Homo sapiens: one gene and its partner. The protein of the gene in region 2 purifies or fractionates together with the protein of the main gene of each other region. This does not show direct contact. Each region holds a gene or a part of one and is shown on either strand. Other genes may lie near its edges.

Region 1 (3,649 bases), on a different chromosome or scaffold from region 2:
AGCCACCACTGGTCTGTGACGTGCCAGCCACTCTGATGGGCGCATTCTGTGTGTTGCACCACTGAACCCATGTACGCTCTGTGTGAGGCGGTTATGATCCATGACTGTCCTCATTTTAGACAAAGCTCAGAGTGGGTAAGTGACTTGCCAGAGTGGCAGAGGCGTGAGATTCAATCATGAGTCTGAGACTAAGCGATTGACTGATGGATTGATTTTACTACCACTTGGAAGAACTACCTTAAAAAAATCCCCTACTGCCAAACCCCTTAAAGCCGTCCCAGGTGATCTGTACTGAGCACATAGCATTTTAGAGGTTACCTATTACGCTGATGATTTAATCTCCTGATCCCTAGTGGGCAGTGAGAGGAAACGAAGCTGTGTTCACATTGGGACCCTTGGCTGAGATGACAACTTCAAGAGAGGGTTTCTGTGCCCTCTGTCACTTGGCAATTCGATGTAAGTTGAAGCTCCAGACTAAAATTCCCCCTACTGACTGTCTTTTTGAAGACATCTTCATAAAAGGGAGGAAAGGGGTGTGGATTGGGCTAGGAATTACAGCCAAGCCTTAGTTTATCAACTGTTAGGATACAGAGGAGGGAACATTAAAATCTAGAAATAACTTCAAAACCCGCAGTCATTGGTTTAAGCTGTCTCTCCAGTTAACTCCTGTCACAGAGATACCAATAGGGGCAAAATCACATTGCCTCTATTTCTATTCCTTTCCCATAAAGACCTATCTATACATGGTCAAACCTGTATAAAGCACTAGCTATGATAGGGAAAGGGCAGGGAACATGGAGGATTTTAGCTACTGAAGAAACAATTAGACTATGCCTCTCCATTGCAGCTCATTCATCCTCACACCCTTTCAGTACCTAACATGGCACTTAGACACAGGAGACATTTGATAAATGTTGAATTAAGTTATTAAGCTTTCTATCCTTTTAGGTGATCCTTTCAGAATAAAAGGGGCTATTTTCAAAGTTTTGTGCATGACATATAAACTATGAAAGCCCAGGCTCTGCCATTTGTGTAAAAAGCAATAAGAGACACACCTATAGCACGTAGTACCTAGGTACTCAAGAAACATTTTTGGGCTGTGTGTGGTGGCCTATAATCCCAGCACTTTGGAAGGCTGAGGCCGCTCGAGCCCAGGAGTTTGAGACCAGCCTCAGCAACATAGTGAGACCTTGTCTCTACAAAAAATAAAAACATTAGCTGGGCATGGTGGTATTCATCTGTGGTCCCAGCTACTCAGGGGGCTGAGGGGGGAGGATTTCTTGAGCCCAGGAGTTCGAGGCTTCAGTGAGTCATGATTGTGCCACTGCACTCCAGCCTGGGCGACAGAGCCAGACCCTGTCTCAAAGTGAAAAAAAGAAAGAAAAACATTTTTGGAATGAATGAATGAATGAATGGAATGGGATTAGATATTCTAAAATGAGTGATTGAAGAGTTACCAAAACATCAATCAATCTTTACTCTGTGTTTATATGATAATACATTTGAGAGTTTTGAGAGAATACTACAAGAAACTCTTTTATGTTTGTGCCTAAAATAAAGCAGAGTGAGGGTGGGAATCCTTCTGGAAAAAATAACAAACAGAGACTAATTGTTGCTTTATAGTTTGCCTCACTCCATGTAACAAGATTTCTGGAAACCTCAAACCTTGGCCACGTCTGGAAGCATGTCAGCTTCATACTTACTGAGCCGTATAAAAGCCCGTCGGTGTCCATGGCCAAGTACTGGCCAGTCTCGGTACTCTTTATATACACCTCCCCCACGCTTTCCGCACTGAGCTGCAGCTGAACTGGAATAAAAATAACACGAGCAAAAGTAAATAAACACTACGCTTTTGCCGATAGGACCCGGCAGCCAGGACAGTTGGCCATGGAAAATTCTGCTCATTCATTTCACGGAGCCCTCAGGGATGAGCCTCAGATTAATCAAAACATAGAAATACAGTCCCTTTTTCTTTGCCTTCCAAAGAAAGCTGTCCATTGGGAATTACGTCCTTGGGAAAGGAAGGAGAGACAACGGCCGGCTCACCTACCTGTCCACCCTGTTGGTTACAAAATGACCCTGAGTGCACCTTCACGGTGCCTCGCTCCTTTCTTTCTGTCACTTGTAGGAAAATAATCACAGGAGGAAATGGCACTCACTCCCCCGGGCTCCCTCATCCCTGCAATCTTGGGATGCCATAGAGTAGGATCTGGCCAGCCTGCATGTGTTCTGCTTTCATTATCAACCTGCACAGGGGTGCCTTTTAATTGTCTGGGCCTTCTAGTCATGGGAGAGATTCCTGTCCGCAGATCGTTATTTTATAAAATCTGAGATTGCTGTTTTCCCTGAGACAGAAGAGGTTCCCAGGGAGTTAGGACTGGTTGCCACATATGAAACTCGGGGAACTCCCTCACAATGAAGTTTCCGTCAATCCCTCAGCCTCTATGGCAACCCACCTGGGGTAGAGGCAGAGGGGAGATCACCAGCTTCTGATGGGGGGAGAATGAAGCCGTTACCTGGAAATGCAGTGATGAGAACAGTGGTTCTCAACTGGGGGTGATTTTGCTCCAAAGGGGACATTTGGCAATCTCTGAAGACAGTTTCTGTTGTCACAGCTAGGGGGGGCGGGTGCTACTGGCATCTAGTGGGTAGAGGCCAGAGATGCTGCTAACATCCTACAATGCACAGGGCAGCCCCCAACAGCAAAGAATTTTCCAGCCCAAAAGTCAGCAGCGTCCAGGTTGAGAAACCTGGAGATGGAGGGAAAGGACTATGAGTTACAGAGTCACACTCTCCTCATTCACACTGATTGACACTCCCAAGGTGCTGGACACTTAATTGGAATCCAATGTCCATTTGATAATTATTAACTTGTTTATTCACCCTAGGGTGCCCTCTTGAGAAAGGTGCTTTGATAATTCACATTTGGGAATTGGAATTAATTCTAGACTCTTCGGGATAATTTATTTGGTCACTAGACCGTCACAACCATCATTACAACTAGGAGTGAAATCTAGACCAGGAACCAGTGGCTGCCCAATAGTTAGTTCCCTAGGAGGATGAGGGGGCATCTCTGAGGTTCATCTTGGCAGAGGCCAAGGGGCAGGAGAGGCTGGAACACACAGAGCTTTGGTTGGTAGATCTCGACCCCTCATTGCCTTTTCTTTGTGTTCTTTTCTTTTTTTTTTTTTCTTTTGAGACGGAGTCTTGTTCTGTTGCCCAGGCTGAAGTGCAGTGGCGCGATCTCGGCTCACTGCAAGCTCTGCCTCCCGGGTTCAAGCAATTCTCCTGCCTCATCCTCCCCAGTAGCTGGGATTACAGGCATGCACCACCATGCCCGGCTAATTTTGGTATTTTTAGTAGAGATGGGGTTTCACCATGTTGGCCAGGCTGGTCTCGAATTCCTGACCTTATGCTCTGCCTGCCTCAGCCTCCCAAAGTGCTGGGATTACAGGTGTGAGCCACTGCGCCTGGCCTGTTTTCATTTTTAATTTAATTTCTTTGAATAGGAAATATACTTCCATTTTCCCAAACAGCAGAGGAGATAGTGAAAAGCTTCGTTCTGGAGTGCACATCTCCTGGGGGGATGCAGAAACAAGGAAACCCCTCCTAGACACCTTGTGTGTGTATCCTTTCTAGAGAGCTTGTG
Region 2 (3,749 bases):
CCACTCCAGCCTCGATGGACCCTGTTGGGGAGCAGCAGCCCTGTGTGCCCCTGTAGCGTGGCCTTCTCTCAAAGCCCTTTGCTTCCCTCCAGTAACCCAGGGCATATGGAGTAAAATCCCAAGAGCCAATGAGGAAGACGGCCCAGTTCTGGTGCCACCAGCAGGCTTGGGTTCTTGAGATTTCTGGCAGAGACTGGAGGAATAGGGCTATTTCAAGACATGAGGCCTCCCCTCTTCAGTAAGGGTCTCCAGGGCTTCCTTAGGGTCAGGAAAAGACAAAGACACTTACTTCTGTCCTGGCAAAAAGAAATCAAGGTGGGAGGATGCAAGGCCATCTCTGGCCTTCCTGTCTACTCTCAACAGCTTTCTCTCCCCAGGTTCCAGGAGACCTAAGCCCCTCTGCTCCAGGACACAGCATTCTACCAGCCCCCTTCTTACCCACCGCACACAGTTGTTCCCTTCCCAGTGAGCTTCTGGTCATCCAAGAGCAGACAAACTTGTTCCCAGAGACCCAGGGGCAGATGTGTGTTGGACTTGGGTCACCCGGGGAAGGCTATTTATAAATCACCCCGATAAGCACAATCTGCCCTGCTCAGCCCAGGCCACATGGACACGCTGTGTGTCTGGTGATTCTACTGCTAAGCTAACCCTCCCAGCACCGTGACAGCAAACTGGACATTTCCTGTATCAGCCAGGCCTAAAAAGTGGGCCCTGGAAGGTGCAGGAGGCTCAGGAGCCAGCCAGCCACTGGTCCTGAAGGGTCTGGCTTACAAACTATTCTAACAGCAAGAACTTTCACTGCTTTTTTTTTTTTTTTTTTTGTATTAAATTGACCCATCTCAAGATGTGTTCTTGTAACACAGTGGTCAGCAAACTTTTTCTGTAAAGGGCCACATTGTAAGCGTTTTCAGTTTTGCAGGCCATATGGTTTCTGCTGATATAGTGTAGAAGCAGCTTTAGACAATATGCAAATGAATGAAGGTGGCTGTGTGCCAATACAACTTTATTTACAAAACCAGATGCTCAGACCACAGACCAGAGTTACCAGCCACTACTGCAAAGGGAACTCAAATGCTGGAAAACAGGACCTCATTTACTACACACATCTGTTTAATCTGCTTCCCAGGTTCCTATACTTAGGGAGCTACCTGAAAGGCCTACACAATGATTTTTCTTAAGGCTATCTAGCTTTCCACACACATTGACCACTGCCGTTCTCAATGTTCAATTCTTCTCCACCAGAAAATAAAAGAGGTAATTTTAGACTCAGTCAAGCATACCCTGTGGGAGTCTGGTGGGGGCCCTCCCAGGGTGTGTAAGAACAGGCAGCCTGTGGCGGGCTTTGTTTTGGGGACACACATGCTCGCAGAGCCCACAGGCCAGAACGTCTCAGTCACCAGTTTTTCTCTTTGTTACAGCTGGTGTGACCCTGCCTGGCCCAGCGCTGGGGGAGCTAAGAAAGCCAGCCTCCCTCAGCCCTGAATGCTGAAAACCTGGGACCATGGGGTCACCCATTTGACAGCGCAGTGGCCTGGGCACATCTGTGCACTCAGCCATGTGGGAGCAGAGATCCCTGACAGATGACACCTAAGGACAAAGTCACACATGTACACGGTTCCGGGTACGTGGTCCCCGAGGCCCATCCAGCACACCAAGAACCTTAGCCCCAACACCAATGGGCTCCCGGCACACACATACCACCCTGCACAGCACCCTGGCACCGAACTACTTCCCCAGCACAGCATCGGCCCAGCGGGAACATCCCTCCCGCCATGAACTTGAGCCTCCCTGCCCACGCTAAGGAGCCAGACAAGTGTCTGGGCTGTACCTTCCGCTCTCTGCGTGTCCAGCTGCTCAGGCCTCCTCGGGAATGGGAGAGAAACCCGGCTCTGCCCAGCAGCCAAGACTTCTTTCCTCTTTATCCAGGCTGCCCAAAGGTGATAGGAGAGTGGATTCAGGACCCAAGCCTCCTCTAGCTCACAAACCTACCCACCTGAGGAAGATCAGTGACCAGAAGCCGGCCAGACACGGGAAGTCCGCGAAGCTTACCTAAATAGAGACCCAGCCGGGGGAAACCAAATGGTGTTCTTGGTGGGGAAGAGGCAAACAGTCCGCACTGCAACACCCGCGTGGTGTCAAGTAACAGTCAGATTAAACAAACAGCCTCAGCTGCTATTTTTACTTCCAAATCAGCCACGAGTAACAGATCACTTGGGGAGTGAGAAATTGCTTGCCGCTTAGCCGGACCCTAACCACGATTCCAACTTCAATCCAGAATGATTGCTAAAGCTATTCCAGCACCTAGAGTCAAATAAAAATATCCCGAGGTGGGAAGGAAAACATTTGTTTAGGGAAACATTAAAAACAGGAGAGTGTGTGCCTTGGAGCCAGAGCCCAGAGCCCTGCTGATGTCCCGGGGCAGAAATAGCCCGTTTCATCATCGGCTCTGGACGACCGCCGCCCGCATTCCTCGAGTAAGGAGCCGTCCTCTGCTGTGCTTTTGGAGCAGAATAATCTGCAGCTAGGGGAAGGCCAGGCTGGGTCTCAGGGTGAGAGTTACAGAAGGATATGAAATAATCGGGGAAGAGGCAAGGTAAGTGTCCACTTGGTAAGCTTGGCTACAGCAAGCCCGGTTGTTTGCAAAGTCCAAGCACCAGTGGACAAGTCCCGTTCTGCCAGGCTCCCCTCTCCACCTCTGGGAAGGGCTGGCCTCCCTTCAACCCTGAGGTGGGCTCATGCCTGCCTTCCCAATGGCTGCTTTCTGTCTCAGGCTGGGGTCACCTGCTCCCCAAACTGCCCACAGATCCCCCAACTTTTTCCACTGGCTTTTCCTTGGCTTGTGCCATGCCAGCTCCCAGAGTGCCTTCCTTACTCTCCCAAGCTGGCCCTAGGATAGTCTGCTTGCTACCAGGATTTAATGCAAGAGTGGGTTTTTTTCCCCCTTTCTCTCCAAGGTTCTTTTTTATGCTTCCCTGACTGTGGCCTGAGAAAGCGGAGATGACTGGCCCCCGCTGGGTGTCCTGCTCTGTGCAGCGCTCAAAGCCTCTGCAAGTTTGCAGTGTGCTGTGTCTTTGGGTCTATTTGTAGACTGTCCCTTCTGCCCCTGTGGGCTCTTCAAGGGCAGCAACCTGTGTCCCAGCCCCAAGCTGGGGCCTGGCACCACCTCCAGCCTTGAACCGGCTGACAGCCAGGGCCACAGGGACCCAGGTCTATGTACTTTTGTCTAAACCAAGTCACAAAGAACAGCTCCTCCTTGCCCTGCAGACTAAGGTGTGAGATTCCAACCAGCAGGAGCATTCAGACCCGCCTCCTCCTGGGAGCCTCAAGACTTGCCTTTTGCCCTGAGAGCTTCAGAACCTCGCTGTGGGGATGATTACTTGCTGCTCCGCACTCAGAGATGCTTTGAGGGAGGCCCAAAGTGAACCCCTCAATTTTACCCACCCACCTCCCTACCTCCCCATTTGCCAAAACAAACGCATGCCAAAAGGTCAGACAAAAGCCATCAACTTGAGATGGGAGCCAACATTTAAAAAGTACACAGGATTTTGAGCCCTGGCTCCATTATTTCCTGGTCAGTTGACATGTCACATACTTACCCTTCCTGAGCCTCAGTTTACCCATCTCTAAAGTGGAGAGAATGCCTGTGCTCTGTGGGATTCAGGGTCAGGGGAGCTCATGTACATGAATATGCTCGTCTATTGCAAAGCTTCCCAAAATGTTAGTCATTTATTTGTTATTTTTTCCCATGA

The links.
Region 1: the proteins of C10orf71 (region 2) and FGF1 purify together in Homo sapiens (affinity purification with mass spectrometry; one large-scale study listed by BioGRID and IntAct). This does not show direct contact.

What each region holds. Positions count from the first base shown.
Region 1 is NC_000005.10:142,598,999-142,602,647, forward strand, and holds part of FGF1 (fibroblast growth factor 1 isoform 1 precursor), read right to left. Parts: intron 1,808-3,649; coding exon 1,704-1,807; intron 1-1,703. UniProt on the Homo sapiens protein: Plays an important role in the regulation of cell survival, cell division, angiogenesis, cell differentiation and cell migration. Functions as a potent mitogen in vitro. Acts as a ligand for FGFR1 and integrins.
Region 2 is NC_000010.11:49,297,534-49,301,282, reverse strand, and holds the start of C10orf71 (cardiac-enriched FHL2-interacting protein), read right to left. Parts: upstream 2,114-3,749; 5' UTR 2,050-2,113; exon of another isoform or gene 1,994-2,049; intron 1,986-1,993; exon of another isoform or gene 1,829-1,985; intron 1-1,828. UniProt on the Homo sapiens protein: Plays an important role in cardiomyocyte hypertrophy via activation of the calcineurin/NFAT signaling pathway.